Regions from separate parts of the Homo sapiens genome. Here all the other regions are linked to region 3. Evidence: fine-mapped expression QTL. A gene starts in region 3. Each other region holds a variant in brackets. All regions are shown on one strand. Distances are from middle to middle. Region 1 overlaps PJA2 (praja ring finger ubiquitin ligase 2). Region 2 overlaps PJA2 (praja ring finger ubiquitin ligase 2). Region 3 holds the start of PJA2 (praja ring finger ubiquitin ligase 2).

What was found.
Region 1: its variant is fine-mapped to the expression of PJA2 in non-classical monocytes (Schmiedel 2018, PIP 0.95).
Region 2: its variant is fine-mapped to the expression of PJA2 in whole blood (INTERVAL, PIP 0.96).

Annotation. Positions count from the first base shown.
Region 1 is chr5:109,338,997-109,349,996 of GRCh38, forward strand. It overlaps PJA2 (praja ring finger ubiquitin ligase 2), which reads right to left. Exons shown (of 10, transcript NM_014819.5): 8 at 5,709-5,823; 9 at 5,194-5,315. Among named protein-coding and RNA genes, the nearest start is that of PJA2, 65 kb to the right of the region's middle. The variant A/G (reference allele first, on the strand shown) is at 4,450.
Region 2 is chr5:109,379,139-109,390,138 of GRCh38, forward strand. PJA2 (praja ring finger ubiquitin ligase 2) reads right to left here. Exons shown (of 10, transcript NM_014819.5): 2 at 4,265-4,382; 3 at 2,365-2,565; 4 at 1-116. The coding sequence starts at 4,295. Among named protein-coding and RNA genes, the nearest start is that of PJA2, 25 kb to the right of the region's middle. The variant T/C (reference allele first, on the strand shown) is at 5,405.
Region 3 is chr5:109,405,810-109,416,809 of GRCh38, forward strand. PJA2 (praja ring finger ubiquitin ligase 2) reads right to left here and starts at 4,165. Exons shown (of 10, transcript NM_014819.5): 1 at 4,033-4,165. RefSeq lists enhancers at 3,250-3,349, 3,390-3,509, 4,620-4,799 and a silencer at 4,030-4,109.

The DNA of each region.
Region 1 (11,000 bases), 67 kb before region 3:
TGCACCTACCTATATCATCTAATCTTACAGATGGTATAGGGAAAAATCATGCCAGACTTCAGGAGCAAATGCATAGAAACATGAGCAAGTGTACAGAAAAGTAAATCTGAAGAAACAAGTTGGGGGTCTAAATCACAGAAGGCCTTGAATGTCAAGATTAAAACTTCAGATTATTCCACAGGTGACTGGAGGTCCCTCTCTTTCTTTTATGAGAAGGGAAGTACATTATCAGAACTACATTTCAGAAAATGCCTTTAATGATGGCATGATAGATAATGAAGATTTGGAAGAGTGAGGGGATAGGAAGAGGCGAAGATGATGAGAAATTAGTTAATGGGTATAATGTATGTTATCCAGGTGATGGGATATCCTAAAAGCCCTGACTTGACCACTACATAACCTATGCATGTAACAAAGTTGCACATGTACCCCACAGATTTATGCAAATAAAAAAGAAATGAAAAGAAAGTACCTCTAAAGGAAGTAAGGAAATAAAGTAGGTCACTACAATAGTAGTTAAGACAACAAGGGTTGAAGGTCTAATGTATGGGAGTAGAAATGAAATGAGGGAATGGACCTCACAGACTCAGCCATGCTCGAAAATTTTAAGAGTTGGTGGCTCTGCATTTTCTGCTTCCCCAATAATTTTAATAACACCTACTTCCACTACTACCACCATCATGTACAGACACTGAAAAAGTCATTTTCTACTGAATTCTAACTTTCATTAGTAATAAGTTTACCATTACTTTTCCTATATGTTTACTATGTGCCAAACACTATATTAAATTCATCATGGATTACCTACTTCAACTCTTATAAAAACACTAGAGGTTGGTATATTGTACAGCACAGCCATCTAGGCTGTATTAACAAAATGCCAGATAAACAGATTAAGAAAAATCACCTAAAATATTATTTCCCAAATTTTGTTCTGGGAGAAGGGAGAGAGCAAGGAAAGCAGTATTTTAAAACTAATTCAGAATCCAGCATTATACCTCAATCCAGAATACCAGGAAGTCTCATGAGACTTGAGACACACATTATCTCTATGCAGACAATACTCCTCAAATAATACACATTAGCACGTGCTGTTTACTGAAGACTGCTAGCTGGTCTTTGTAACTTGCACCATAAGTTTTTATTTGTGATTTTGTTGTTAATAAAATAAAAACACCTCTAATTTCTAATAATAGCTTTCATCTGATATGATTTGTAAAATATTTACTGGGCACTTACTACCTGACAGGCACTATGGGTTATCTCATACAGAGATATTTTATAAAAGAACAGTGAACATTTCTAAACTGGATTTCAGAGATTTTAAGTGGAATTTTGAGAAGAACAAAGTGGCAAATAGAAATAGAGGAACAGCAAAGAAAGGAAAAGGAAAGACGGAAGGAAGGAAAGGAATGGGAAAAGGGAAGGAGAAAAAAAGCACTGGTTTATAGGGAAGAAAGGGAGTTGTATTCCTAAGTAGATAATTTGGGAAAGTGACTTGGGAATTCCTAGTGAACTGGATGGTAAATATCCTTTATGCAAAAACAGAGTTCACAGAGAAGACTGAAATAAAACACTTCCTTTATTTAAATAATTCAAATATGCTTAAGATTTATTGGGTCCCTCCCCCTCCCCCTCCCCCTCCCCCTCCCCCTCCCCCTCCCCCTCCCCCTCCCTCTCCCCACGGTCTCCCTCTCATGCGGAGCCGCAGCTGGACTGTACTGCTGCCATCTCGGCTCACTGCAACCTCCCTGCCTGATTCTCCTGCCTCAGCCTGCCCAGTGCCTGCGATTGCAGGCTCGCGCCGCCACACCTGACTGGTTTTGGTGGAGATGGGGTTTCGCTGTGTTGGCCGGGCCGGTCTCCAGCCCCTAACCGCGAGTGATCCGCCAACCTCGACCTCCCGAGGTGCCGGGATTGCAGACGGAGTCTCGTTCACTCAGTGCTCAATGGTGCCCAGGCTGGAGTGCAGTGGCGTGATCTCGGCTCACTACAACCTACACCTCCCAGCCGCCTGCCTTGGCCTCCCAAAGTGCCAAGATTGCAGCCTCTGCCCGGCTGCCACCCCGTCTGGGAAGTGAGGAGCGTCTCTGCCTGGCCACCCATCGTCTGGGATGTGAGGAGCCCCTCTGCCTGGCTGCCCAGTCTGGAAAGTGAGGAGCGTCTCCGCCCGGCCGCCATCCCATCTAGGAAGTGAGGAGCGCCTCTTCCCAGCCGCCATCACATCTAGGAAGTGAGGAGCATCTCTGCCCGGCCGCCCATCCTCTGAGATGTGGGGAGCGCCTCTGCCCCGCCGCCCCATCTGGGATGTGAGGAGCGCCTCTGCCCGGCCGAGACCCCGTCTGGGAGGTGAGGAGCATCTCTGCCCGGCCGCCCCGTCTGAGAAGTGAGGAGACCCTCTGCCGGGCAACCACCCCGTCTGAGAAGTGAGGAGCCCCTCCGCCCGGCAGCTGCCCCGTCTGAGAAGTGAGGAGCCTCTCCGCCCGGCAGCCACCCCATCTGGGAAGTGAGGAGCGTCTCCGCCCGGCAGCCACCCCGTCCGGGAGGGAGGTGGGGGGGGGTCAGCCCCCCGCCCGGCCAGCCGCCCCGTCCGGGAGGGAGGTGGGGGGGTCAGCCCCCCGCCTGGCCAGCCGCCCCGTCCGGGAGGGAGGTGGGGGGGTGAGCCCTCCGCCCGGCCAGCCGCCCCGTCTGGGAGGTGAGGGGCGCCTCTGCCTGGCCGCCCCTACTGGGAAGTGAGGAGCCCCTCTGCCCGGCCAGCCGCCCCGTCCGGGAGGGAGGTGGGGGGGTCGGCCCCCCGCCCGGCCAGCCGCCCCGTCCGGGAGGGAGGTGGGGGGGTCAGCCCCCCGCCTGGCCAGCCGCCCCGTCCGGGAGGGAGGTGGGGGGGTGAGCCCTCCGCCCGGCCAGCCGCCCCGTCTGGGAGGTGAGGGGCGCCTCTGCCCGGCCGCCCCTACTGGGAAGTGAGGAGCCCCTCTGCCCGGCCAGCCGCCCCGTCCGGGAGGGAGGTGGGGGGGTCGGCCCCCCGCCGGGCCAGCCGCCCCGTCCGGGAGGGAGGTGGGGGGGTCAGCCCTCCGCCCGGCCAGCCGCCCCGTCCGGGAGGGAGGTGGGGATGTCGGCCCCCCGCCCGGCCAGCCGCCCCGTCCGGGAGGGAGGTGGGGGGGTCAGCCCCCCGCCCGGCCAGCCGCCCCGTCCGGGAGGGAGGTGGGGGGGGGTCAGCCCCCCCGCCCGGCCAGCCGCCCTGTCCAGGAGGTGAGGGGCGCCTCTGCCCGGCCGCCCCTACTGGGAAGTGAGGAGCCCCTCTGCCCGGCCAGCCGCCCTGTCCGGGAGGGAGGTGGGGGGATCGGCCCCCCGCCCGGCCAGCCGCCCCGTCCGGGAGGGAGGTGGGGGGGTCGGCCCCCTGCCCGGCCAGCCGCCCGGTCCGGGAGGGAGGTGGGGATGTCGGCCCCCCGCCCGGCCAGCCGCCCCGTCCGGGAGGGAGGTGGGGGGGTCAGCCCCCCGCCCGGCCAGCCACCCCGTCCGGGAGGGAGGTGGGGGGGGTCAGCTCCCCCACCCGGCCAGCCGCCCCGTCCGGGAGGTGAGGGGCGCCTCTGCCCGGCCGCCCCTACTGGGAAGTGAGGAGCCCCTCTGCCCGGCCAGCCGCCCCGTCCGGGAGGGAGGTGGGGGTGTCAGCCCCCCGCCTGGCCAGCCGCCCCGTCCGGGAGGGAGGTGGGGGGAGTCAGCCCCCCCGCCCGGCCAGCCGCCCCGTCCGGGAGGTGAGGGGCGCCTCTGCCCGGCCGCCCCTACTGGGAAGTGAGGAGCCCCTCTGCCCGGCCAGCCGCCCCGTCCGGGAGGGAGGTTGGGGGGTCAGCCCCCCGCCCGGCCAGCCGCCCCGTCCGGGAGGGAGGTGGGGGGGGGGTCAGCCCCCCTGCCCGGCCAGCCGCCCCGTCCGGGAGGTGAGGGGCGCCTCTGCCCGGCCACCCCTACTGGGAGGTGAGGAGCCCCTCTGCCCGGCCACCACCCCGTCTGGGAGGTGTGCCCAACAGCTCATTGAGAACGGGCCAGGATGACAATGGCGGCTTTGTGGAATAGAAAGGCGGGAAAGGTGGGGAAAAGATTGAGAAATCGGATGGTTGCCGTGTCTGTGTAGAAAGAAGTAGACATGGGAGACTTTTCATTTTGTTCTGCACTAAGAAAAATTCCTCTCTCTTGGGATCCTGTTGATCTGTGACCTTACCCCCAACCCTGTGCTCTCTGAAACATGTGCTGTGTCCACTCAGGATTAAATGGATTAAGGGCGGTGCAAAAAAAAAAAAAAAAAAAGAAAGAAAGAAAGAAAGAAAAAAAGAAAATATGTAAATAAAGAGAGATAATGTACCATAAAAAAAAAAAAAAAAAAAAAAAAGATTTATTGGGTAAATATTTGAAGACAATATATAAAAACTGGAATAGGAGCTACTTGGTAGGTTATTAAGT[A/G]TCTCTCATATACATTTCAGAAACACCAACCTGTATTAGCAGAATAGCTGTATATTGTTATAGTACTTTGAGTAGTGCCAAAGGCTTCTCTGCTTTAGATACTTTTGAAAACACCAAATTTCAGGGTTATGATTAAAATTCTAATCAGCTTTATTCTAAAATGAGTTTTCAGATATTTAATCACTTCCTAAAATGATTAAAAACATGTTGTTATTATTGTCTATATTTTTAGACAATGTTAGTAAAATAAAATATTTCCATATTATCCCTGATCTGTAATCATTAAATGCAATCAGGTTTTTAACAATGAATTAAAAAGTACTACAAATTTGCGGCTAAATAAAACAGGTTTAAAAGATACTACTATTGGCTGGGCGTGGTGGCTCATGCCTGAAATCCCAGCACTTTGGGAGGCTGAGGCAGGCGGATCACCTGAGGTCAGGAGTTCGAGACCAGCCTGACCAACATGGCGAAACTCTGTCTCTACTAAAAATACAAAAAATTAGCTGAGCTTGGTGGTGGGTGCCTGTAATCCCAGCTACTTGGGAGGCTGAGGCAGGAGAATCGCTTGAACCCTGGAGGCAGAGGTTGCAGTGAGCCGAGATCGAACCACTGCACTCCAGCCTAGGTGACAAGAGCGAAACTTTGTCTCACCAAAAAAAAAAAAAAAAAAAAGATACTATTATTCACTTGCAGAAGACACTATTAAAGTATTTTTAAATTTTTAATTATTCTATCACTCACCTTTTGTAGCCAAATTGAGACACAAGGTTTGTGAAAGAAATGGTGACAGGGCAACTCTGTTGCTATATCATCCTTAATATACTCACTGCAACAGATTGGACAGCATTGTTCCTGACCAATAGCTGAAAACAACAAATAATTCAGGTCAATCACACGTAGTTCAATTTTAGTAAAACTGAAAAGCAACATATTATACTCATAGAAGATACCTCTGAAAGACGAAAGAGCCAGTCTTTGACCAGTTAATTGGCAGGCATTTCTGTCTAATACTTGGCAATTTGGAATCTAATAAATACTGCTTTGTAAAAAAGCTGACAGAGGAACATTTGTCTCAGCCTATCGCTTGAAAATTAAAAATATTCTTGTACTAGGTGAAAGTTTGTGAGCATCTGGTTTCTATAAAAAAAATCTAGTGAAAGTTTCTAATAATCAAGTATTTAATTATCTAGGTATATTGATAATATACTTAAATGTACAATGTGTTCTTCAACATTTGAGATCAACTTTGCCCTTACCAGTGTGATCTTCAAGAACAAGGGTCTCTGGAAGACCATCAATGCTTTCCTTACTAGCTGGTGGATTGGCCACCTCAACATCCACTGCAAGAGACTCTAAATGGGCCAGAGCAGTCTGAAAAACAAAAGGTACAGTTCTTTGTTAGAAATACTTTAAAACAGTAACAGAAAACTATTTTTAGGGTATCTCCAAAATTATATCACCATTATTCTCTTTTTGTTAGTTTCTTTTGCTTTAGTCCTTTGCTCCTTTTGCCTCTTCAGAAGGAACTACCACCATCACCAACAAACCAAAACATTAAATATACACGCAGAGCCCAACTTTCTACATGTGAAATAAAAATATACCTTGTCTCGGCCGGGCGCAATGGCTCATGCCTGTAATCCCAGCACTTTGGGAGGCCGAGGCGGGGTGGGTCACTTGAGGTCAGGAGTTCAAGACAGCCTGACCAACATGGTGAAATCCCGTCTCTAGTAAAAAAAAAAAAAAAAAAAAACAAAATTAGCAGGGTGTGGTGGCACATGCCTGTAATCCCAGCTACTTGGGAGGCTGAGGCAGGAGAATTGCTTGAACCCAGGAGGTAGAGGTTGTAATGAGCCGAGATCAAGCCATTGCACTCCAGCCTGAGCAACAAGAACGAAACTCCATCTCAAAAAAAAAAAAAAGCAGGTCGTGGTAGTGTGTGCCTATAATCCCAGCTACTGGGGAGACTGAGGCAGGAGAATCGCTTGATCCTGGGAGGCAGAGGTTGCAGTGAGCTGAGATCACCATGCACTCCAGCCTGGGTGACAGAGCGAGACTCTGTCTCAAAAAAAAAAAAAAAAAAAAACTACCTTGTCTCAATAATCATCTACTTCTCCGTATTTATATTTTGAAGGAGTGGTTACTTTTTCCAACTATTGGTTCCTATGTGAGATCAATAACATGAAAGAAAATAATAAACATTTTGGAAAGGTTCACTTCATGAAAGATAAAATGTGGCTGAGGCTACTAGAAGCTCCAGGTATGGAAGCAAATAATGCACTCCTGAATGGCTACATCTACTACTGGCATGGATTTGGCGCACCCACATTACCAGCTCACAAGTATTACTAGGTTATCTGGGTTGTGAATTTCATTTACAGGTTCAAATATCTGTGTCAAATTACTGTTCTAAGAAGGATGGAAAGAACATCAGATCATGTGATCATCTGGGATGCGTCATCCTCATCCTTTCTGGCTCTAATTAGACTAGAATGGCAGTTGAGACTTTTGTCTTTTTGTCTGCAACCTGTACAATTACTTGCTCTTGGTGCACATGCTGCTTCCCCTGCCTGGTGCTTTCTGTCCATCCTTTAAGTCCTATCACTCCCTCTGGGACTGCATAAGTCCTGTCTCTTCCATGAGGCCTATGTCAGTGGTCCTAGACTGCACGAGTATCCTTCTGAACTGCTACTGTATTCAAAGAATTGGTATTACACCGTTTAATTATTACTTGTTAGTATTATATCCTAATTACAGCATCATAAGATCATGGAGCTATGAAAGACCTTGGCTTCTTTTTAGGGATGAAAAACCTGAAGGAAATTTGACAACTATCAAAACTGGGCCTCCCCTCCTGGTTGGAGTGCAGAATATTACAGCTGCTAGAGAAAACAGCCCAACAATTCCTCAAAATTAAAAACAGAATTATCACATAATCCAGCAATTCTAGTTCTGGGTATACACCCAAAAAGAACTGAAAACAGGGACTAAAACAAGTATCTGTACACCCATGTTCACTGCAGCATTATTCACAAGAGCCAAAAGGTGGAAGCAAATCAACTGTTCATTGGTGGATGGATGAATATGCAAAATGTGATATACACATACAGTGAAATATTACTCCGCCTTGAAAAGGAAGGAAATTCTAACACATGCCACGACATGGATGAACCTTGAAGACATTATGCTAAATGAAATAAGCCAGTCACAGAAAGATAAGTACTGTATGATTCTTACATGAGATACCTAAAGTAGTCAAATTCATTGAGACAGAAAACAGAATGGTGGTTGCCAGGGGCTGGAAAGATGGGAAAATGGGGAGTTACTGTTTACAGCAATGTGAATACACTTGATTACACTGAACTGTACACTTTAAAAAACTGTAGCAATAGTAAATTTTATATTATGTTTATTTTACCATAATAAAAAAAAATGAACAAGCCAGGTTTCCCATATAGAAGAAGAATTCTGCCTGATAGCTTAGCTAACACTCTATTCTTCTGGATGGCAAACATAATATTTATACATGCCTAAGGTCCTACCATAGATATTCCCAAAAAGAATTTGAGATGACTTATAATAGGGATTACAACTTGCCTTGGGCCAAGCCCAAAGCAAAATCAGGACTAAAAAAGGAAAAAGCAAAACGGTTCACAAAGAGTTAATAAACATAGTTAATATTATTGAACACTAAATTTGACTCTGGATATGCAGAGAAACACTGCAAAAAGAAAGAAACACTGTTCCAGTAATTGAATTATTGCTTCTCAGCTCCAAATACACCTTTCATTTCTGCCCTTTGAAAACAGATTTGGGCCTTTTAAATATTTTTCCTTTTGTTAGCTGACATGATTTTAAGTTTTGTCAGCAGAAGGTGCTGGAGAGACACAAGGAAAGGACTTTGCTTCATGGTTCCCTTGGGCTTGCCCCTGCAGTGTGCCAGGCTTCCCTGTGCACAGATGGCTTCTCCAGCATCAGACTCCTCCAGTGTGGGTGGCTTCTCCAGTGCCTGGCTCTTGAAGCACATGCTGCTTATCCAGTAACTGGTAATTACAGGACAAGGTTGCCAGCAGCTTCTCCTTGTACTCATCTTAGGTGGTTCTGCAGCAGAGTACCTAGGGGCTTGGTCACATCACTGTGAAGTTTCTCTTGCCCCAGAGGGCAGATTTTTGCCATGTTCCAGAAGGCAAATTTCCAGCAAGTTCTGCCAGCACAGTACCATAAATACTCCTCCATAAGCCATGGCTGTGTCCTTCCCAATAAGGTCTGGCTCTCAGCCTTAGACAGGAGGGAAGTAGAGTGCTCCATCTCAGCCCTAAAGCTGTTTCTTAAATCTGCTAATCCTATATTCTTTAGAGTTTGCTTTACTTCCTACTAGCCAATCCCTTGGTATTCTAAACTTCTGTTGCAGTTAATATTTACAGTAAATTTTCCCTGTTCAAATTACTGTATTTCTCTCTCTTGGGACTGAACTCAGACTGGTACAGAATTCATATTAAGAGTGGTCCCGGGACACAGAACTGGCAAGAAAAGGATTTGGGGGTTGGTTTGGTTACACCTGTTGAGCTTGAGCTCAGTGTTGAGCTCCTTGCCAATGAGAATGGGATGCTATTAATCCATAGTCTGTAGTGGCATCACAATTAATCAAGGTATCACTGTGGTTGACAGTGATGAAGATCCAACTGAAGCATGTGTCTTGAAAGCCCAGATAGCTCCTATACTTGATCTTACGGCAACAGTGATCTAACTGTAAAAATCGTGATGTGAGATGGATTATTAAGAGTGCCCTTGTGCACTTACAGAAAAAAATTACAAACTCAGGTCTCTTAAACCTCACAATAGGGTATGAGAGCCAGAAAGCATCCACGACAGCCCTAAAAGATGCTCTTGCTCCTAAAAATCAAACGCAAAATGTAATTGTGTGGATTGCTAAATGAAAATTAGAGTTGACTTCTTAGTCTCATCAAATTTCTCAAAAGTTTTACCATTGATTGGTTAAGGAATAAGATTCTGAAACCTGGAATGAAGACATCTGACTGAACTCTGAGGAAACTGATAACTTTGAATCCCCAAGTCACTCTGAGCCTCCTGTTACCAGTAGAAACAGTGTGCCCTCCACAGACTAGGCTTCCTCTGCTTGAAAACCCTGTGATAATCTCACCTGGAGTGTGAATCTCTTACTGCTTTCATGCCCAACAGTAAAGTTACCAGAACTACAGCAGACAAAAAAAGAAAGAACTGAAGATATAAACAGTGTAGGTCTGGGTTATTCTACCAAGTAAAGAATCCTAACCAGCTGAGTGAGCTTCTGGCTGAGGGCAGGGAAAATATGACTGGGTCATGGAAGAAAGAAGTTATAGCTATCATTCAGTCTCATGAGCAAATACAGAACAAGGATTAGTAATTCTGCATATTTTATGTGCTTGTTTTATGTATCTGCTTATTTATATATGTTAACAGTTTACTTTTCCTCTTTCCCATTTCTATTTCAATATGCCAGTTGTTGGAAGTTAAATTTGCAATTTAGTCTTTATATAAGAGAATATTCAGTGTTACTATGAATGTGTGGAGTAATGCATAACTAGCGATGGATACAATGCCTCTTGGAACTAGCCATCTGCTCATTCTGGGAAATGGGTGAAACTTCATTTGTAGTAATAGCTGTATTTTGTTGGGTGGAAATACAATTCTATTGATGGATGGAAATTTAAATGTGCATTGAAAGGTATATATGGAAGCCAAGTTATCAAAGTGCTGGAATGTTCCATTTATGGAATTATTGCTCCACAAATCCATATTCACTATTGTGTCGGCTCTGTGAAAATCTGGGCTGTTTAAATACTTTCCCTCCTAACAGCTGGCATGATGCTAAGCTTTGTTCACAGAGGATGTTGAAGAACACTGCTGGAGGAAAGGGCCTTCCTTCTGTCCCAGTGTGCTTGCTTGACAGAGCACACTGGGACTAGAGTGATGTTCGTGGCTTTCTCTAGCACTAGACTCAGTGCACACAGCTTCTCTAGCAGCCAGTTCCTGTAATGCACTTAGTAGGTGGCAGCCTCCCCCAGCATCCATGTTGGACAGTTCTGCAGTACAGCACTTCCAGTTAGAAACCTTCCTATGAATAGCTTTCCTCAGCACCCTAAGAGAGCTGACTTCCAGCAAGTTTCACCAGCACATACCCAAGTGACTTCTCTCTCATACAGCAAGCCACAGCTGTGCCATTTCCATCAAGGTGACCTCAGCCCTGAGATGGACTAGGGACTCTTCCTTGGGTTGTCCTAGCTTTGCCAGACAGGTGGTGGCTGCTCCTTATATGCGCTTTTCCCATATTCTGTGTAATTATCTTTATTTCCTCCTAGCCAATCCCTTGTTACTCTACTTCTTTGTTCTAGTTTAGAATTCCTTATATTGAACTTTCCCATTGCAAGATAGGAAATGGAAGGTAAGATCCTGTTATCAGTCCCTTTCCTTCTCACATAGCTATAATTATGAATCTCCTCCAATTCCCCATATGTACTACTCAAGATAGAACCTGCTTGCAAGAACTC
Region 2 (11,000 bases), 27 kb before region 3:
ACTGCTCTCAGTGGTTTGATTCAATGCTGAACCACAAGTGGGAATTTCTGTTTCACTTTTTTCAAATATAGGTTCACTGGGTAAAGAAGAATCAACTTGATCCAAAGGACTGGAACCTTCATAAAAAACAAAAGAAAACATATTTTAAAGGATTAACTTAGATAAAATTTTATGTAATAACTATCACTTAAGTGGAAATCATACCAATTATTACTACTTGAATACATGAGTAAATTTATTTACCAAGCACTTCTATGCTCCTTAACTGAGAATGCAGACTGATTACTCTATGAGTTCATTTATGTCAATGTACAGCCTTTCACTATCATCTCCCTCACATGGCTTTGGCAGTTTTCTATCTAAATCCTAATATCTAATGCCTTCTGCAAGACATATAAAGGAGAAGCTCTTGAGAGGTTATACAATGGGAAGCCTCTCGTAAGTGGAGTCTAGGGTAACCAATCTGCTTCCCAGTGATTTCCAAACTTACCTTCTTTATTATATGCAGGTAAAAACAACAACAAAACAAAAAACCTTCAAAAGTACTTATGACAGATATAATAACTATAGTTACAGATTTAAGAGAAATTAGACCCTATTGTGTTTTGTTGGCAATTCACAAAATTATATCTCAGTATCTCGACAGATTATAAATTGAATTGTTGTAATACATTTGTAATAAGTTTACTTTAGATGTGTTATAGTTATGACTGAAAAACAACAAAGAGATCAATATGTTGATTCTTGTCATAATTGTGAGAATTCTGAAACATGAGTAAAATCATATCTATAAATTACTTTAAGCATAACTATCTTGCATCACCACTAATAAAAAAAATGAAGACATTTGAGATTTGCTGGAATAAAAATTCATGAATTGTAAAATAACTGAAGTTCGGCCATGATATATGGTACGAAGGGTTCTTTGATATATGGTACGAAGGGTTCTTTTTTTTTTTTTTTTTTTTTTTTTGAGACGGAGTCTTGCTCTGTGGCCCAGGCTGGAGTGCAGTGGCATGATCTCGGCTCACTGCAAGCTCCGCCTCCCAGGTTCACACCATTCTCCTGCCTCAGCCTCCCAAGTAGCTGGGAACGAAGGGTTCTTCAATGGGATGACCCTAGCTAGTAATTCAGATTCTTACATATGACAGCAAAAATAATCTAGAAATGTCTTGTCAAGTTTGCTTAGAACAAGAGGAAGAAGACAAATCCAGTCCAAAAATGTGCAATTATGGTACATGGATAGCTGCAAAATACTTTTTCAAAACCATTGAATAACTAAGAAATTTTAATTGAATAAGCCTTCCTTGTCCTTTGGATTTTGTAAAATGATGAAAAAATAAACAAGCCAAGTTAAATTTAGGATAAAATTAAAAGAAGAAAAGTTGGCCGGGCACAATGGCCCATGTCTGTAATCCCAGCACTTTGGGAGGCTGAGTTGGACGGACCACTTGAGGTCAGGAGTTCGAGACCAGCCTGGGCAACATGGCAAAACCCCATCTCTACCAAAAAATACAAAAATTAGGCGTGGAGGCGCATGCCTGTAGTCCCAGCTACTTGGGAGGCTGAGGCAGGAGAACCACTTGAACCCAGGAGGTGGAGGCTGCAGGGAGCCCAGATCACGTCACTGCACACCAGCCTGGATGACAAAGTAAGATTCCATCTCAAAAAAAAAAAAAAAAAAAGAACGCCAGGCATGGTGACTCACACCTGTAATCCCAGCACTTTGGGAAGCCAGCCAAGACAGGTGGATCACTTGAGAGGTCAGGAGTTTGAGATCAGCCTGGCCAACGTGGTGAAACCCTGTCTCTACTAAAAATACAAAAATTAGCTGGGTGCAGTGACAAACACCTGTAATCCCAGCTACTAAGGAGGCTGAGGCACAAGAATTGTTTGAACCTGGGAGATGGAGGTTGCAGTCAGCCAAGATGCACTACTGCAGTCCATCCTGGGCAACAGAACGTGACTCCATCTCAAAAAAAAAAAAAGAAGAAGAAGAAAAGTTATTTAAATATTATATGCAGGGAAAAAATATCTCTACTTGATCCACATTTTTAAAAATTTCAAAATATATCTTTTTGATTCAAAGATGATTTCCTTTGGCTGGAGGTTATGACAACGTAATCACTACTATGAGAGTGTGGTTATATTTTAATGATTGGCTGTATTCTATTTTCTTCTACAATGTTTAAATATATACACCATTAATATTAAATTCAATAAGAATTTCAAAATAGAATTTCTTGATAGGAAGTGTGCTGCATTTACACTCACAGACATGCATAATACCCACCCAAAAATTTAATTATAAGATCAATTCCTATATAACTATTAATAACCTTTAAATAATTAAATGTTACACACCTGAGGAATTTTCCTTTGGAACATCATCTAGTTCCAACACTTCATAGTCATCACCAGCCCGACCTAAGCTTCTTTCATGTCTGGTCATACATGGTTTAAAACTGACATAAGCATGTCTTCTTCCATATCTCCTGCCTGTAATTGTCTGATACCCTCCTGCTGGTTTGGGCCAGACAGCCTTACCAGATTCTTGGTCCATTGCTGAAAAAAAAGTTAAAAAATTAAAACAGGAACAGCAATGAGCTTTATTCTTGCAACCTGTTGGGGAAAACTACTTCAGTTTATATTTTATTATTTATCAAATCATATGCTTCTGAACATGAAGTGTACCTTACTAGTACTATAAAACATTATTCTTCACACACTAGAAAATTAAATATGAAGTACTATATAATAAGAGTTAGTGGCCTTTTCCCTTCAAAAAATATGTTTTAAAATTTGGTTTCTTTAAGGTATTTCAGATTTTTATAATGAAACCTATCAAAAAATATTTTTCATATGCCAAATTATTATACTGCCAAAGCTCTTTATGGGAGATCTTCCAAATTAAGTACCTTATATATTATATTAATATAAGTGCTCAATACATATTTGATGAATCAATTACTAGCATTATGATATGATGGTTTCAATTACTTTAAGAATGAAAACATTTATGTCAAAGATAACAAGTAACCTCTTTAAATGGTATCTGTACCATGAAGAATCAACTAGATCACAATAAATATGTTCCAAAGATTAACGTCAGATAAAACTATCCAAAAGAAAACAGCAATGAGCCAGGTCAAACACATACTACCCTGCCTTCAAAACTACCAATAAATGGTATATGTTATGGTAAGAAAAGCCATCAACATTTACATGACTTGACAATTAAGTTTTGTTGACTGAGGGGTATACAGTAGTAAACAGCAGCAACTTTCACTAAGTAGTACATTATTATACACACACATATATATATTAAGTGTAAGTCTGCTTAGTCAATTATACATTACATGTACTACACAGCAACTAAACAAAATATTTTCTCACAGCATATGGTATAGTCAATAAATGCAACAGTTGCTGGGCATGGTGGCTCATGCCTGTAATCCCGGTACTTTGGGAGGATGAGGCAGTCGGATCACTTGAGGCCAGGAGTTCGAGATCAGCCTAGCCAACATGGCGAAACCCCGTCTCTACTAAAAATACAAAAATTAGCCAGACGTGGTGGCACATGCCCATAATTCCAGCTACTCAGGAAGCTGAGGCATGAGAATCACTTGAACCCAGGAGGCGGAGGTTGCAGTGAGCCAAGACTGTGCCACTGCACTCCAGCTTGGGTGACAGTTCGAAACTCCATCTCAAAAAAAAAAAAAAAATGAATAAATGAATGAATGAAACAGTTACATAATTTCTTAGTTGTATTAAAATAAGAAATATAATCACTTCCAAGAAGGAAACAGAAACAAACATGTATTTATAATACACGCACATATCGAGTATAAATAATATCAAGTGTTACACTTATTTAATCCCATCAGTAATCTTGAGGTGGATATTGTATTCTATTTTAAAAATTGAAAAATTAAAGTTAAAATTAAGTGTTGGATAACTTGTCTAATAATCCAAAAGTATGACTCCAGAACCAATGCCCTTAACAATTCTACCAAAAGAATAGTCTCCGAAGTGGAAAGCATAAAGCTTTCCAAGCTAAATGGGTATGGAAAGAAAATACCAGAATTTCTATTTTTACCTATCAAAAATTAGAAACTAAGCTTTACAAATATTCAATATATGGATCAAAACCAGCCTTTTAGTAAGACCACAGGTCAGATGATCATATGTCACTTACTGGTACTCAAGGTACCCAGAGGAAAAAACAAGAAGTACTCAATGTAGAAGAACTGACTTTCCTTACCTGCTGGCTCCTTTTCAGTGTACTGTGACATATATGGCAGCGTCTGTGTGACCAGTTCAGTAGAATTATAGATGTGATTTAGTTTTTATTCACACTATGGACAAGCCGCAGAAGATTCCTACAAAGAAACAATGAATTGAACAATATATTAATAAAAGCACAAAAATAGCAAAACTGATACTTCTGCTCCTCCTAGTGAAGTCTTATAATAAAACTTAGAAAAATACAATGTGATGTAGCCAGCATGGTGGCAAATGCCTGTGATCCGCCTTAGATTACAGCACTTTGGCAGGCCAAGGCGAGCAAATCAGTTTGAGCTCAGGAATTCGAGAACAACCTGGCCAACATGGTGAAAGTCTGTCTCTGCAAGAAATACAAAAATTAGCCAGGCGTGGTGGTGCACACCTCTAGTCCCTCAGGAGGCTGTGGTGGGAGGATTGCTTGAGCCCAGGAGGTGGAGGCTGCAGTGAGCCGAGATCATGCCACTGCACTCCAGGCCTGGGTGACAAAGTGAGATCCCGTCCCAAAAATAAATAAAAACAAGAAAAATACAACACAATTTGACAAGCCAATCAAAAACTCTCAGAAATACCAAAATGGCTATGTGAAATACAGATTTACATCTGCTCTTGATAAACCTTGCCTAAGTATATATCATCCTTAAGACTGTCAATGACAACAACACATACATAATTTGTAAGTAAACAAACAAAAATATCAGAAGTACTGACTCAGGTATGTAACCAAACTATTTGGGAGTCTACTACACTGTGCTATCATTGCTTCTCTGTCAAGCAGTAAAGTTCCTTTAGCCCTGGAATTGCTAAAAGGTAACTGTAAGAATACAAACTTCATTTTTTAAAAATGTGTAATGGCTTATAACAATAATTAATGTGTGTAAATAATGATGTATTTATTCTTTGCAATAGTCAGTTGATCAGATAATTTAATCCCAAATAAGAACCTATTTTCAATCAGGAAAAACTACAATTTATCATGGAACAAATACAAAAAGAACTTCTGTTTTGAAATTAATGCATTTATTTACTATTTGAAAAGTACTATTTGAGAAGTTGCAACCTGTGGTTTTTTTGAAAGTTTGGTTAAGTTTTTATTTAAACACCTTATTTATTTAAACAC[T/C]TGAGCTACTGCTAATTGCTCATCATTAATGCAATAGCTCTGCAAATGAGTTTAATTTATATGTTACCTGTCTAATCACAGACAGATATATATTAACATACGTAAGAGTACAAACCCACATTCACCCATATAATTTATAAATTCAGTAACAAGTTATGATCCTTTAAAGTATCTGAATCAAAAGAGGCTGTTAGCAACAGCTAAAGAGAAAAGGAATATAAAAATAATAATAATCTTAACATACTGGCAAAAACATAGGTGCTAATTAACAGTGTTTTAACTTTTTTTTTTTTGAGGGCGAGTCTTGCTCTGTCGCCCAGGCTGGAGTGCAGGGGCTTGATCTCGGCTCACTGCAACTTCCACCTCACGGGTTCAAGTGATTCTCCTGCCTCAGCCTCCCAGTAGCTGGGACTGTAGGCGTGTGCCACCATGCCCGGCTAATTTTTGTATTTTTAGTAGAGACAGGGTTTCACCATATTGGTCAGGCTGGTCTCAAACTCCTGACCACGTGATCCACCTGCCTTGGCCACCCAAAGTGCTGGGATTACAGGCATGAGCCACAGTGCCTGGCTGAAATGTGCGTTTTATTCTGAGATGGAAAACCATCAAAGTTCTGACCACAGAAGAGATATTTGACTTCTGTTTTAAGAAGAATGCTCTGGCTACTGTATTGAATAGCATGAAGAGGAATGAGGTCTAAAGCAGGGAGCACTGTTAAAAAGCTATCAAAATAATACTGGTAAGAGATCATAGTGGTTTGGACCAGGGTTAAAATAAAGATGGTAAGAAATGACCAGATTCTGGACATATTGTAAAAATACAATCAACAAAATTTACTAATATAGGATATGAAAGAAGGTCGAGGTTGACTCCAGGTTTTACAGGCTGGGCAATGGGAAAAATGGAGTAAATTTCAATTAATGTAGGAAAAATTGTGGAAGAGCCAGATTTGAAGAAAATATATTCAGTTCAGTTTTGGATGAGTTAAGTTTGAGATATCTATTAGACATTCAAATGGAAATATTAAATAGGAGTCTGGTGTTGACTGAAGAATTATGAGCTGTTAGTATAATTTGGGAGTTGTCAGTGTATAGATTATACCAAAACAGGTATGAACTTGGATGAGATCTCTAGGTGTACATGGAGAAGTGAAGTTAAGCCCTGAGAAAATCAAATATGAAGAGGCCAGGGAAAAAGAAGCAGAGATTGAGTATCCCTTTTCCAAAATGCTTGGAACCAGAAGTGCGGATTTGGGATTTTTTCAAATCTTTGAATATTTGCATATACATAATGAGATATCGTGGGGATGACATCCAAGTCTAAACAGAAAATTCACTTGTTTCCTACACATCTTACACACACAGTCTGAAAGTAATTTTATACAATACTTTTAATAATTGTGTGCATGAAATAAAGCTTCTGTTAAGTACTGATGTGTGGAATGTTAAAATTATGGTGCCATATTGGCAGTAAAAATGTTTCAGATTTTGGGGCCAGGTGCAGTTGCTCACACCTGTAATCCCAGCACTTTGGAAGGCCAAGGCAAGCAATCACCTGAGGTCAGTGAGACTCTGTCTCAAAAAAAAAAAAAAGTTTCAGATTTTGGAACATTTTTCAAATGTTAAATTTTTGAATTAGGGATGCTTAACCTATAGCAGAAAAAACAACAGAGGGCAGTGAGAGAAAAGAAAAATACTGAAGTGTGAACACCAAGTGAAGAAAGTGTTTTAGGCAGAACTGATCGTGCCAAAAGTTAAAGTATGATGAAGGCCTATCACTGACCACTTAGCAACATGGAGGATAATGGCGAATGGCGGCACCTTTGGTAGCATGGTTGGTGCAAATGCCTGATAGGAATGCTACTAAAGAGAGGAAAGGAATTGGAAACAGTACAGAAATCATGGAAATCACCCTGTTTCTTAAACTTTTCTTTAATGTGATTCCACTTTTCTTCTTAAAGATACTCTTCGGAGCCGTCTAACATCCTGATCTAAATTTAGTCTACGTGTTTTCAAGGGCTATTAATCAGCTACTTCTGTGGAAATCTTTTGATTGTACTACCCGCTCAGGTTAAGTACCCTACTTTGAATTCCATGTTTTTATCATTTTTTTTTTCCCTTTACTGGAAGATCCTCAAATAATGGTTTCAACAAGTATATGTTGGAGGCAAACACTGAGTCCTTGGACATCTGAAAATACTATCTCCCTCATACTTTAGTACAGTTCAAGACAAAATCATTTTTTCTAAACTCTGAAAGGCACTGTGTCCTACCTGTCTACCTATTTATCCTCATTTTGTAGAAACACCAAATTTTTCTGTCTGGAATATTTAGGGTCTATCTAAATAGCTGGTATTCTATAATTTCACAAAGACTTGTTTGGGGCAGGCCATGTTTAAATTTTTCCTACACAGCACTGGAAGAGCTATTTTAATTTAGAGACTCTTGTACACGTCTCAAATACATCTTTTTCCTCACTACTTTTTCTTTATTTGGCCCAAATGGGTTAATCATTTGTCTCTAAACTTTTCTTTCATATTTTCACTCTACAGACTGGGAGATTTCACTCATTTTTACTTCTTTCCCTTAGCCTTTCCTTATTCTCTTAGCCTGTCATTACTCTCTGTAACAATCTTTTTAATTTCTCATACTTTCTTATTCTGTGATTATTATTTAATAGTAGTTCTTGTGTTATGAATATAGACTAGAATCTCTCTGTAGATACTAATTATTTCTACTTAATCCGAGACCTCTATATTCCGTCTACCACTTTCTATCTCTAAGTATAAAAAATAAGAAAAAAAGCAAAACAGGGAAGAGATAAGTAGGGAATAAAGACCATAGCTAGGGTCAAGATTAAAATGATTAATCAGTCCAAATTTGTAGCTAAGGTAAATTGGGAACACCTAGTTTTTCTCTAAATAGACATTTCCTTTGCTGATTAGTTGTTTCCTCCAGGTACTATTCACCTAACATGTTTATAACAGACTGCTCTCTACTTGTGACAATTAGTCACTTCAAACAATTCGGGGTTTTTACATACTTCTTACTAATACTAAAACAAATATATAAACGTGTTGCTAAGAATTAAAGGACTCAATCAAGGACGTATTAATTTCTGGATCTCTGAATTATTAACCTAGAAGTAATCACTTTATCATTTCAACCAGGATATTATGCCAACAGATCTGGACAGACAATAGGAATCATCTTTAAAGAATGCAAGGAAGAACATGGACATGTAAGGTACACTTCTCACAGTAAACTAGTGAATTTAAAGACAAAGGCCTGTTTATTTTTTATTTACATACACTTTGTCTAGTACATTGTCTGACAGTATATTTAAACAGTTACTGAACAAACGAATGAATGAATGAGATAATTCTGTGCTCCTTTCTCTGATGGAAATGTGGTCACATAATGGAAAAAGAGGGCTAAGTATTTGGGCACACATGGATTCAAACTTCATTTAGGCAAGTTAATAAACTGCTCTCAGTATTAGAGCCCTCTCTTGTGACTTGTTTCTAATGAAGACAGTGTGATGGATGTGACTGTGTGTGATGTGCAAGAATAGGGTAATAAAAGGATTGTGGCTTCCTTAATTTCTCTGCTCACTCTTTCTGGAAGAAACCAGCTGCCACATCATGATATCACTCAAGTAGACCCACAGAAAGCCCACATGGTGAAATACTGACCGTTCCTGACAAAATCCACAAAAACTAAGGTCTTCCGGCAACAGCCACATGGATGAGCAACCTGGAAAGGGTAATGCCCTAGTGCATTACCCTTCAGATGACTGCAGTCCCAGCCTACATTTGACTGCAACCTCTTGAGAGACTTGAACCAAAATCAGCAACCAGGCTGCTCCTGAATTTCGAACCCACTGGGACTATGTGATGATAAATGTCTGAGTTGCTATGTCCACTGCAGGACAACAAGTTACTCTACTCTCTTATCCTGCAACAGGTAACAAATACAAACAATGTAAATTAAAATGAAGATTTAGGCACAGGGAGACAAAAATCAGCTAAACTTCCAGAAGAAGGGTTTCAACTGATAGCGTGGATCTACACCCTTATGACTCATCTGCTGGGAGCCAGAAATAACTCACTTTTAAAGTATCTTTTCTAGAAAAAAAAGGTTGAGAATCAAATACAATTTGATCCTTACTTGAAGGAAAAGTCTTGGTTACTCTTCCAAGTCCATTAGAATATTTTTTATTCTCTCATATTTATATTTACATATATGCCTCCAAAATGCCCTAAAAACATTTAAAATTCCTCTTAAATCAGTCTTGTATAATTAACTTACCCTGCATTTCCTTTTAGTGAATGAATTCCTTAGACACACGGAATTTTGATAATTTACACCTATTATCACAACTGAGATATAAATTAAGAACTACAAACTTTATGACAAAATGCATTTATGACAAACTATGACAAATGTTATTAGAAAGCTATTTTACATTCCCCAAACAAATCCATGTTGGTCACAATACATTAACCCTTTTATATCTCACTGGATTATTCTTTTACCTATGTTCATGAGAAATATTGGCTTAAAATAGTCTCGTCATGCTTTTGTCAGGTTTTCCTATCAAGATTATACTAAAGTCATAAAATATGCAAATAAATCTTTCTATCTTCTTCTTGTTCTCTAGAAGAGTCTGTGTAAACCCAGGATTATATCTTACTTAAATGTAAGGCAGATTTGTCAGTGAAGCCATCAGGTCTAGGATTTTCTTTGTGGAAAGGTTTTTGATAAATTCAACTACCTTAATAGACACAGAACAACTCAGATTTTCTATTTCTTTATATGTCAGCTGACTAAACTGTGTTTTTCAGGGATTATGACCTTTCATTCAAGTTGTCAAATGTATTATCAAGTTGTACATAATTCCCTTTCATTAACAATTTAATATAGAGAGGATCTGTAGTGAAGTCTCTTTTTTTCATCCCTGTTACTAGTAATTTGTGTTTTCTCTCATTTTTCTTAATCAGGTCATTACAGGTTTTCATTTTTTAAAAGTTTTCTTAACTAACTGACTGTAAAACTTTCCTGTTTCATTGATTTCTACTTTTATACTATTTCCTTCTTTCTACTTCCTTGGGTTTAATTCATTGCTCCCTTGAGATAGGAGCTTAGACTACTGATTGTAAACCTTTGTTCTTTACTAATTTATACATCTAAAGCATAAAGTTACCTCTAAGCATTGCTTCAGCTGTATTCCAAAAGTTCTGATACGTATTATTTTTATTATTTTTCAGATTAAAATGTTTTCTAATTTCCACAGTGACTTTGTTTTTCATCCACAGGCTACTCAGAAGTGTCTTGCTTAATTTCCAAATATTTGCAGTCTATTTTTTTTTTTTTGTTATTGGGTTGTAATATAATTCTATAGTGATCAGAAAACATGCATTGTATGATTTAAATTCTTTGAAGATTAATGATACTACTTTATGACCCAGAATATTTTTGCACATGTCCCATATGCACTTAAAAATAATGTAAAGCCTTCAGTTGTTGAATATAATGTTCTATAAATGTCAATTAGGTTAAGTTGATTAATCATACCATTCAAATTTCTTATTCCT
Region 3 (11,000 bases):
CACAACTTTGCATTAAGCAAAGAGTTCTTAGAACACAGAAGCACAAATCATAAGAAAAAGTTGGTAAGATGAATTTATCAAAATTAAAAGCTCTTCTTTTAAAGTTAGGAAAATAAAAAAAAAACAAGCTTCAGATTGCAGTGTGTGTGTGTGTTTATGTATCTCTGTGTGTCAAATGAGTTGTATAAAGAATGTATTAAAAAATGCTTACAACTCAATAAGACAAACCCATTTTTTTTTTTTTTTTTTTTTGAGACGGAGTCTCGCTCTGTCGCCCAGGCTGGAGTGCAGTGGCACGATCTTGGCTCACTGCGAGCTCCACCTCCCGGGTTCACGCCATTATCCTAACTCAGCCGGAGTAGCTGGCACTACAGGTATCCGCCACCACGCCCGGCTAATTTTTTGTATTTTTAGTAGAGATGGGGCTTCACCGTGTTAGCCAGGATGGTCTGGATCTCCTGACCTCGTGATCCGCCTGCCTCGGACTCCCAAAGTGCTGGGATTACAGGCGTGAGCCACCGCGCCAGGCCCACCCATTGTTGTTTGTTTGTTTTTTAATGAGCAAAAAATGTCAACAGATACTTCACAAAGGAAGACATACACTAGAGCAAATTCTCAGCACCATTAGTCATCTGGTAAATGCAAATCAAAATCCCAGTATGATACTACTATATACCCACTAAAAGGGCTAAAATTTAAAAGACTGAAATAACCAAGTGCTGAGGATGATGTGGAGCAATTGGAACTGTCATACACTGCTGATGGATATGTAAAATGTGACAACCACTCTGGAAAACAGTTTGGCAGTTTCTTATAAACATCCATGTATCATACAACCCAACAAGTTCCATGTCTAGGTATTTACCAAGAAAAAAAAGATGTTCACAAAAATTCAAAATAAATGAATGTTCATTGAATAAAGGAATGTTCAACAAATGAAGGCTATTTATTAATAACAGCCCCAAACTGGAAACAATCCAAGTATCTGTAAATAGGTGGAATGGTCAACAAACTAGTAAATCAATACCAAGGACTTCTATTCAGCAATAAAATGAGAACCCGTTAAATACAGAAAAACATGGATAATCCTGAAAAACATGCCAAGAGAAAAAGCCAGATACAAAAGAGTATGTATTACATCATTCCACTTACATGAAATTCTAGACAAAATGATACCAATTTATAGCAAGAAAAAGATGATAAGTGCTTTCCTAGTCCTGAGGGTGAAATTGTGATTGACTGCAAAAGGGAACTTTGGGGGAGATGAAAATATTCTATATCTTAATTGTGGTATGAAAATATTCCACTCTTGACTGTGGTGGTGGTCACAGAGCACATATTTGTCAAAACAAAATACACTGTACATTTCAAATAAGTACATTTTACTGTATCTAAGTTATCCTCAATAAGGTTGATTTTCTAAGAGGGTGCTCTCTCAGGAAAATATAAACCAGGGAATACTGGTGATGCCCACATATACCCACCTCAAAAGATGTCAAAAAAATATATATAAGAAAACTCATTTATGGTTTTTAAAAATGTCAAAAACAACAACATAAGCATCTTGGAAAGCCAAGACTAGAAGGAAATATTTTAATATCAGCGGCTTTACCAGAAAGCTTCACCAAACATCATAATTAATGCTAAAACATTAGAAGCATTCCCCCTTAAAGTCAGAAACAATGCCATGTTTGTTGTTAGCTATCAGTGCTATTAGTTTTTAATCTACCAGTGCTCAACATTTTATAAGATGTATAATTGCAAAAGCAATGAGAAAAACACATAAGTTATAAAAACTGAAAAGGAAACCACAAAACTGTGAATATCTCCTGATAATCAACTCAATAAAATAATCTGATACATGATAGAAAACTCAAAAGTTTTGCTATAACCAGAGAAAACAGAGAGAGAGAAATGTTACTGAAAGTTTCCATCCACCACACGAATCAAACCATAAAATAGGAATACCAGGAAGGAATGTTATACGTATGAAGAAAAAAAAGAAAAACTATAAAAATTTCCCTAACAGTATAAAACAAGATGTGAATAAAATGGAGAGGCCACATTTCTGAGGAGAGAGACTCAATACTATAAAGATCAGTTGTCTCCAAATTAATCTAAAATTTCAATATAACCTTATTCAAAATAGCTAAGGATTTTTAGTTCAGTCTAAAGTTTACCTAGAAGAAGAAATGCATAAGAAACATTCAAGAATATTTTCAACAAGAGTAATAAAGAGGGAGAAAGGGTTACCAAAATTTAAAATATGCATAATCTTTTAACTGAGCAACTTCACTTCTAGGAACCCATGCTCCAGAAATAATCACACATAGAGGAAGTTTACTGAATTGTTAACAGTGGCTGACAATCAAGATGCAAGCAGGACTAGAAGTGGAAGCGGTAATTTTTACCTTACATTCTTCCATACTGTTTAATTTTTTAAAATCAAGGATGAATTAAAATTTGTAATTAAACATCGATCAATAAATTAGAAAGTTATTTTCATTATAAATCATCATTTGTAATAGCAAAAAGAAACTGCAATTAAATGTCTTTCAAAAAGGGAATAGAATAAATTATAGCCCATTCAAACTCACGAGATACCAGTTAGCCTTTTAAAAAGTATTAGGGAGACCTATATGTAAAAAGTAAAAATGTCCAACATATGTAATTAAGTCAATAAGCAAGCGGTATGCAAACATGTTTGGTATATGGTATAGCCTCCCTCAAAAAAAAAAACTTTACGTGTACTTGTATGTGTCTAGAAGTGCATTTGCAAGATTTTGAAAAATGAACACTAAACTGTCAACTTTACACTGGAGTGGGACTGGGGGATGAAAAGAAATATTTAAATTTTACCTAACAGTCCGTTATTTATATTGTTGAAGTGTACATCAAACTTGCATGTCTGCAATGAATTTTTAAAATTAAGTGGTCATCTCATATAAAAATGACATGAACCCCAAAAGACAATTACAACACTGAAAAATACAGTTTAAACGTTTATTACTGTTATCCTCAGGTTTATTCACATACACTTCAAATGATCCGTAGCCTTCAGCAAAGGTGACTGCCATTTTAAAGAAATGTGACCAAATATTTCATGATAAAACAGAATACATTAAGCCTGCAATGAAAATTTTAAACTTCACAGAACCAGCAGACTCAAAAGAAGCGCCTATGCGGATGTAAATTTTTTTTTTTTTAATGTCCGGAGAAGGAACTCTCAGATTACTCTCCTCCCTGCAAAACGACTATTTACCACCTCCCCTTTGCTTCAACTTGGTCTGAGCGTCTTTAACCTCACCATTTTGAATGTGCGCAAAATGATTACCAGTCATCTGAGGGAGGCCAAATTAAAGGTGCATCTGCAAGAGGAGCTCTGGCCTGACATCGCTAACTGAGAGCAGCCCTGGCGGAAAGGTGCTGATCCCGGGAGTAGAGCGACTGCTGCGGCTCGAGCGGGGTGTCTGCGTGCCGAGCCTCACTGACAATCGGGGAAAATGCAGACGCCCAGCAAAACGACGGCAACAGAAGGCTCCTCGGGGGAGGGGTGCTGCAGGCCTGTGGCGTAAGATGGTTCCGCTCTACGCGGGGTGACGGGAAACCGCAGAAGGTGGGTGTGAGGTGTTGGTTGGGGGGCAAACTCTTGTACAGTGGCGAGTGTAGGGGAAAGCCAGCGGGCTCCTTGGCCAAGTCACCAAGGACAGCAGAAGAGGCAGCAGTAAAGAGCGGCAGCGAAGACCCCGATACCAACCAATGTCATCTGTCGGGGGGCGGCGGGCGCGACCGTCCCGGATAGGAGCGCGGCCCGGGTCCGGGCTGGACAGGGCCCAGGAGGCGAAGAAGGCCTCCCACAGCCATCAACCCCACCCACCATGGCCGGCGCAGCAGGCCAGGGACAAGCCCCGCTCCTTCCGAAGCTAGAGACAGAGAAACTGAGGAGCTGAACGCAGCAATTTCCTCGCCCCGACCCCCACACTCCCGACAGCGGAACAAGCCAGACTGAAAAAAAAAAAAAAAAACCCTCACCGAAATGTGCAGCGGCTCCGGAGCGAGAACAGCGCTCGAACCTCCACCCGCCACCACCGCCTTCTTCTCCGCCTCCAACTCCTCCCCCGCCGAACGCGAAGCGGCTGGCGGCTGTGGCGGCGGCGGCGGCGGTGGCGGCGGCGGAAGCAGAGGCGGTGGCGGTGAGTCCCGCCCCTTGCGCCGCGGTGGAGGCGAAGGAGGAGAGTACGCAAGCCCCTCCCCCATAGCAGAGATGACCAGTCAGCTTACAGGGTCTCTGCTGGGGGACAATGCATACGCCCAATCAGAACCTGAGGAGTGGGCTCACGTCAATGGTTGGGACGTGGCAGAAAAAGGGAAAAATACTTGGACCTTCTCTACAGCCTGCTCCCCCATCTCCCTCAGGGGGAGTTCACCAATTGGCTGAAGAGCGGAAAGACGAAGCCGACTCAGTCCCCCGCCCCAGCCGAGCCCACCTCCTTTCCCTGCAGTACTGCGACGTTTGGGGAGGGGGCGGAGCACCGTGTAGGAGCTAAAACTGCGCGGCCTTTTGTGGTTTGGGCTGAGAGAAAAGGGCGGGGTCTCGGAAAGGGAAGGGGGTGTGGAGAACTAACAGAAAGACTGGCGCAGTTAGGCTTTTTCGGAAATTCCAACAGCAACAACCAAAATGGAGGCATTAAAATCGATCCTGATTCGACTGGAAACCTGATTAACAAGGTTAAGGTCTCCTGGCATAAAGTTCAGTTACAATGCAGATATCGGTGAGACAAAAAAAAAAAATGACACGAAGAAAGGCTTGTTTACCCACCCTGACCCTGGGCACTATATGGCGCTTTCCACCCTCCCTCTCCGCGCTGACCCTTGCCCCTCGCTTCTTATTCTGCTGGGGCGGGGTTCAGAGGAGGCCTGCCTTTCCTCTGTATAGCCTTGGGCTGACCACAGCCTCCCAGCTTGCATCTTGAGGCTGTTTGTCAAGCCGGGAAGTAACAGCTCCCATCACATGCAACCAAAATAAATACAACAGCTGCAGTCCCCGGACACCTTGCTTAATTTAAACCTGGGTAACAGTTTAGTTAATTATGTCAGTGATACAAAACTGTTTCTTCGTTCCGCACATATTCCCTTTATTCATCTTGAAACGTGTCCGCTTATCTGATTACAGTCCCTCTGTCTTCTCTTATTCCCCACCCCCGACCCGTCGCCTGATGCCCAGGATATATTCATCGCCACCCCTCCCCCGCGAATTAAGAGCCCCACTTCTTGTGCTGTCCCCTTAACAACAGCGAACTCTCTTGCCAGTGAACTGAGACTAATTTTTTTTTGCTGTTGATGGAAATAAATTACCCAAAATTTACTGTAGAAATTTAGGTTTATGAGAATTTGCCAGACATTTTGTGAAATCCAATCTGAATCCCAGCCCACTCCTGTAGTACGTTTCTTACCAAAAAACCATTCCTTGCTTGATATTACTCTGCCTTCACACGTGTTGCTATAGGAGTTCTGACTTTAACCATCCAAGTACCTCTTTGAAAAAAAACAAAATTCATATTTTAATTACATTTCCCTAGTTTCCCTTTAGGGTGTTCCAGATTGGCCCAACTGGATACATTAACCTGTTCTAGAAGGCAGGGATTCCCAAATTTCAACCTTTTTCATACTGTATCTGTGTATACTACTCACTGTCCTTTTTTCTTTAAATAAATGTATATTTTCTTTAATTTCTTTAAGAAGGAGACTTTATAAAAGTACTATAAATGGAAAACTAGCATCACCTATTATAAGTTGAAAGTAACTGTAAGAAAAATGAATGCAAAACAATGTTTTTAAATTGTGGCTAGAAACTGTTGTCCACTAAAGGCTCTAAGTCTAAAGACAACTGTCTTTGTTAAAAGGGCAAGCTACCAAGCATTAGACACACATTAAAGATACAGCACTCAAATGGTATTTTTATCATGATGTCATCAAAGGATAGAAAAAATAGAGCCGGAATAGCAATCACTTTCTCACTATATGAGTCATTGTTTTTAATCCTGCATGCGTGTCCCAACTACAGTTAACCAAGGCATCATAAGTGATCTATGTTACTATGAGAAACACTGGTATGGAGGCTGAAAAAGCCTGTACTCTAGAATCAAGCAGACATATTCACATACTGGCTCCTGCATTTGTAGCCGTGTGCCTCTGGGCAATCTACTTTGTTCTCTGACCTCGATTTCCAGTTTATTATAAATATGGGAAAGTAATAATACCAATTCATGAGTTGTATAGATTAAATAACCTAATCAATGTAAAGCATATCATACCTACAATGAAGTACTAAATACATATTAGCTTATGTATTGTATTACTATATAGAGATAATAGTATGTATTATTCGCTTATATGTATTATTGTTGATTCCAGGGTTGGGAAGCACTATCTAAGGCAATGGATTGAAGGTACTACATGATATACTGCAGTGGTTCCTAAAGTATATTATAATCCCTACACCAACAGCATCAGCATTACTTAGGAACTTTTTAAAAATGCAAATTCTGGCAAGGCGTGGTGGCCCATGCCTGTAATCCCAGCACTTTGGGAGGCTGAGGTGGGCAGATCACTTGAGGAGTTCAAGACCAGCCTGGCCAACATAGTGAAATCCTGTCTGTACCCAAAAATACAAAAATTAGCTGGGCGTGGTGGCACATGCCTGTAGTCCCATCTACTCGGGAGGCTGAAGCAGGAGAATCCCTTGAACCCAGTAGGCAGAGGCTGTAGTGAGCAGAGATCACGCCACTGCACTCCGGCCTAGGTGACAGAGTGAGACTGTCTCAAAAAAATAAAAATAAAAAATAAATAAATACATAAAATGCAAATTCTCAGGTTCAACCTCAGACTTGAATCAGAAACTCTAGGTATGTTGCCCAGCTGTATTTTTACAAGCCTTCCAGGTAATTCTGACATACGTAAAGTTTGATGACCACTAATTTAAATAGAAGAAGGCTTGGTCAAGGAGTGAGAGGATCTATGTTCTAATCATAGCCTTAAAGTGATGTCAGCCAAAATGAAGGTGTAAGGACCTCTGAAAATTCTCTTCAGCAATGAGAACACTGGCAAAATTGTCAGAACTAACTTTTTTAGAACTCTGAAAATTTACCAAAGGTTTGCAGCAATCCAGGGAGTATTTATTCAAATAGCTGAATCTCTAAGAACAGCCAGTTTTGTGTCATTTTGACTTGCCCTACTCTAACAGCCACATGTCCAGCTCCACTGTAGCTTTGAAAACCAACAGCCCACAATTGTGAAAACGAGCAGGCTGGTAGCCAGTAGGGGAAGTAGAATGGTGTTGGAGCTCCTTTAAAGAGCTTAATTTCCAGAGAACTGTCATTATTTGACCTATCTGGTGGTTCTGCAGATTTTACAAGGCTGCCTTTGTTTGATTTCACTCCAGGCTCACCCAGTGCAAAGACTTTTCCCCAGGGGTCATTTGTCAAAAACAAAAACATTGATTAACTTTGCCACTGTCTTAGGCAGTGGAAACAGGTGGGGCCAAATACAGCTTAACCAAACACTCAAAACTGATGCAGGGCAAGAGGGCCCCAAAACTGGGGCTTAGCCCAGGAAGGTTCTTGGTTTCACCCAGGGAAAAATTCGATGGCAAGCTGCTGGTGTTAGACAGCAATTTTTATTGAAGTGGCAGTGTACAGCAGCAGCAGAGATACTGCTCCTTGCAAAGCAGTGGTAACCCATGGGCAGTGTGCCCAGAGTAGCAGCATATGGGCTGTTGGAAGCTGTATTTATACCCACTTTTAATTATATGCTAATTAAGAGGTGTATTATTAGAACTTTCTAGAGGTGAGGAGTTTTTAGATCCATATAAGGTAACTTTCAGGCTGTTGCCATGGCTTGTTGCCATGGCATTTGTAAACTGTCATGGTCCCAGCAGGAGTGTCTTTATACTAATGAACAGTGTGGGCAGCTAGAGGTCACTTTTGTTGCCCTTTGCTGGTTTCAGCTGGTTTCTTTACTGCACTCTGTTTTCTACCAGATCCTGCTCTGGTAAGAGCAGTAGTGACAGGGGTATTGACCAGCGCTCAAAAAACAAATCCTGCTGATCTCCTACCTCAAAAGGAAAAGCTGGAGAATGAGATGTCCACAGGAACTTTGAAAACTCTGATATGGTTTGGCTGTGTCCCCACCCAAATCTCATCTTGAATTCCCATGTGTTGTAGGAGGGATCTGGTGGAAGGTGGTTGAATCATGGGGGCAGATCTTTCCTGTGTTGTTCTCATGATAGTGAATAAGTCTCACAAGGTCTGATGGTTTTAAAAAGGGGAGTTCCCCTGTACAAACTCTCTTCTCTTGTCTGCCACCACATGAGACGTTACTTTTACCTTCTGCCATGATTGTGAGGCCTCCCAGGCCACATGAAACTGTAAGTCCAATAAACCTCTTTCTTTTGTAAGTTGTCCAATCTCAGGTATATTTTTATGGCAGTGTGAAAAGGGACTAATACAGTGAATTGGTACCAGTAGAGTGGGGCATTGCTGAAAAGATACCCAAAAATGTGGAAGTGACTTTGGAACTGTGTAACAGACCGAGGTTGGAACAGTTTGGAGGGCTCAGAAGAAGACAGAAAAATGTGGGAAAGTGTGGAACTTCCTAGAGACTTGTTGAATGGCTTTGCCCAAAATGCTGATAATGGTATGGACAATGAAATCCAGACTGAGGTGGTCTCAGATGGAGAAGGGTGACTCTTGTTATGTTTTGGCAAAGAGACTGGCAGCATTTTGCTCCTGCCCTAGAGATTTGTGGAACTTTGAAGCTGAAAGAGATGATTTAGGGTATCCGGCGGAAGAAATTTCTAAGCAGCAAAGCATTCAAGAGGTGACTTGGGTGCTGTTAAAGGCATTCAGTTTTATAAGGGAAGCAGAGCATAAAAGTTTGGAAAATTTGCAGCCTGACAATGCAATCGAAAAGAAAATCTCATTTCCTGAAGAGAAATTCTGACCAGCTTCAGAAATATGCATAAGTAATGAGGAGCTGAATGTTAATCTGGAAGATGTCTCCAGGCCATGTCAGATGTCTTCACGGCAGCCCCTTCCATTCATAGGTCTGGAGGCCCAGGAGGAAAAAATAGTTTCCTGGGCCAGGCCCAGGGTGCCTATGCTGTGTGCAGTCCACTGACTTGGTACCCTGTGTCTCAGCCACTCCAGCTGTGACTGAAAGGGGCCAACATAGAGCTCAGGCCATGGCTTCAGAGGGTGCAAGCCCCAAGCCTTGGCAGCTTCCATGTGGTGTTGTACCTGTGAGTGCACACAAGTCAAGAATTGAGGTTTGGGAACCTCTACCTAGATTTCAGAGGATGTGTGGAAACACCTGGATGCCCAGGCAGAAGTTTGCTGCAGGGACAACACCCTCACAGAAAACCTCTGCTAGGGCAGTGAGGAAGGGAAATGTGGGGTTGTAGCCCCCACACAGAGTCCCTACTCGGGCACTGCCTAGTGGAGCTGTGAGAAAGGGCCACCATCCTCCAGACCCCTTGGAGGGTAGCTCTCCTGACAGCTTGCACCATGTGCCTGGAAAAACCACAGACACTCAACGCCAGTCCATGAAAGCAGCTGAGAGGGAGGCTGTATCCTGCAATGCCACAGGGGAGGGCTCCCCAAGACCATGGGAACCCATCTCTTGTATCAGCATGACCTGGATACAAGACATGGAGTCAAAGGAAATCATTTTGGATCTTTAAGATTTGACTGCCCTGCTGGATTTTGGACTTGCCTGGGGCCTGTAGCCCCTTTGTTTTAGCCAATTTCTCCAATTTGGAATGGCTATATTTACCCAATGCCTGTACCTCCATTGTATCTAGCAAGTAACTAACTTGCTTTTGATTTTACATGCTCATAGGCAGAAGGGACTTGCCCTGTCTCAGATGAGACTTTGGACTGTGGACTTTTGAGTTAATGCTGAAATGAGTTAAGACTTTTGGGGACTGCTGGGAAGGCATGATTGGTTTTGAAACATGAGATTTGGGAGGGGCCGGGGACAGAATGATATAGTTTGGCTGTGTCCCCACCCAAAACTCATCTTGGATTCCCATGTGTTGTAGAAGGGACCTGGTGGGAGATGGTTGAATCATGGGGGTGGGTCTTTCCTGTACTGTTCTCATGATAGTGAATAAGTATCACAAGATCCAATGGTTCTAAAAAGGGGAGTTTCCTTGCACAAACTCTATTCTCTTGTCTGCCACCATGTGAGACATGCCTTTCACCTTCTGCCATGACTGTGAAGCCTCCCCAGCCACGTGAAACTGTGAGTCCAATAAACCACTTCATTTGTAAATTGCCCAGTCTCAGGTATGTTTTTGTCAGCAGTGTGAAAATGGCCTAATACCAACTCCAACACATTCCTGGGGATCTAGAAGCTCACACACATGTCCACAGCTGTGTGAAACTGTTCATACACTCAGGAAAGACCTGTGAAGACCCTAAGCATTCACCTTAGGCTGATCTTCAGGCTCTACATAAGTAGGAAGTGAAGGCTAAGGGAGAGTTATTAACTGCCTGCCTTAGTGTTGAAGCCATGCTCCAGTACACACAGACCCTCACTAAACCCTGGGAGATATGTTGTTTCCAGGTCTTCAGAAAATATGTCTACTCATTAGCAGAACACTAAGCTAAGCAAGCAGAAACATTAAACTAACGAAGCAGTGCGAGTAGCCACACAGGACAAAGAATATAGACTTTATAGAAGTAGTTCAGAAAAGTGACTAAACAAGCAACAATAAATGGTAGCAACAACAAAAAAAGCCCAGGAGGGAGAAAGACTCCATTTTCCAGAGCTGCCATGTCATATTTTTTAAATGTCTGGTTTTCAACAGAACCAGAAGTTGGACCTTCAAAAATATATTTTTTTAAATGATGAGGCTTTCACTAGACTGAACAAGAAAAAAAGAAAAAAGACTCAAATTCCTAAAATCAGGAATGTTAGAGGAGACGTTACTACTGACC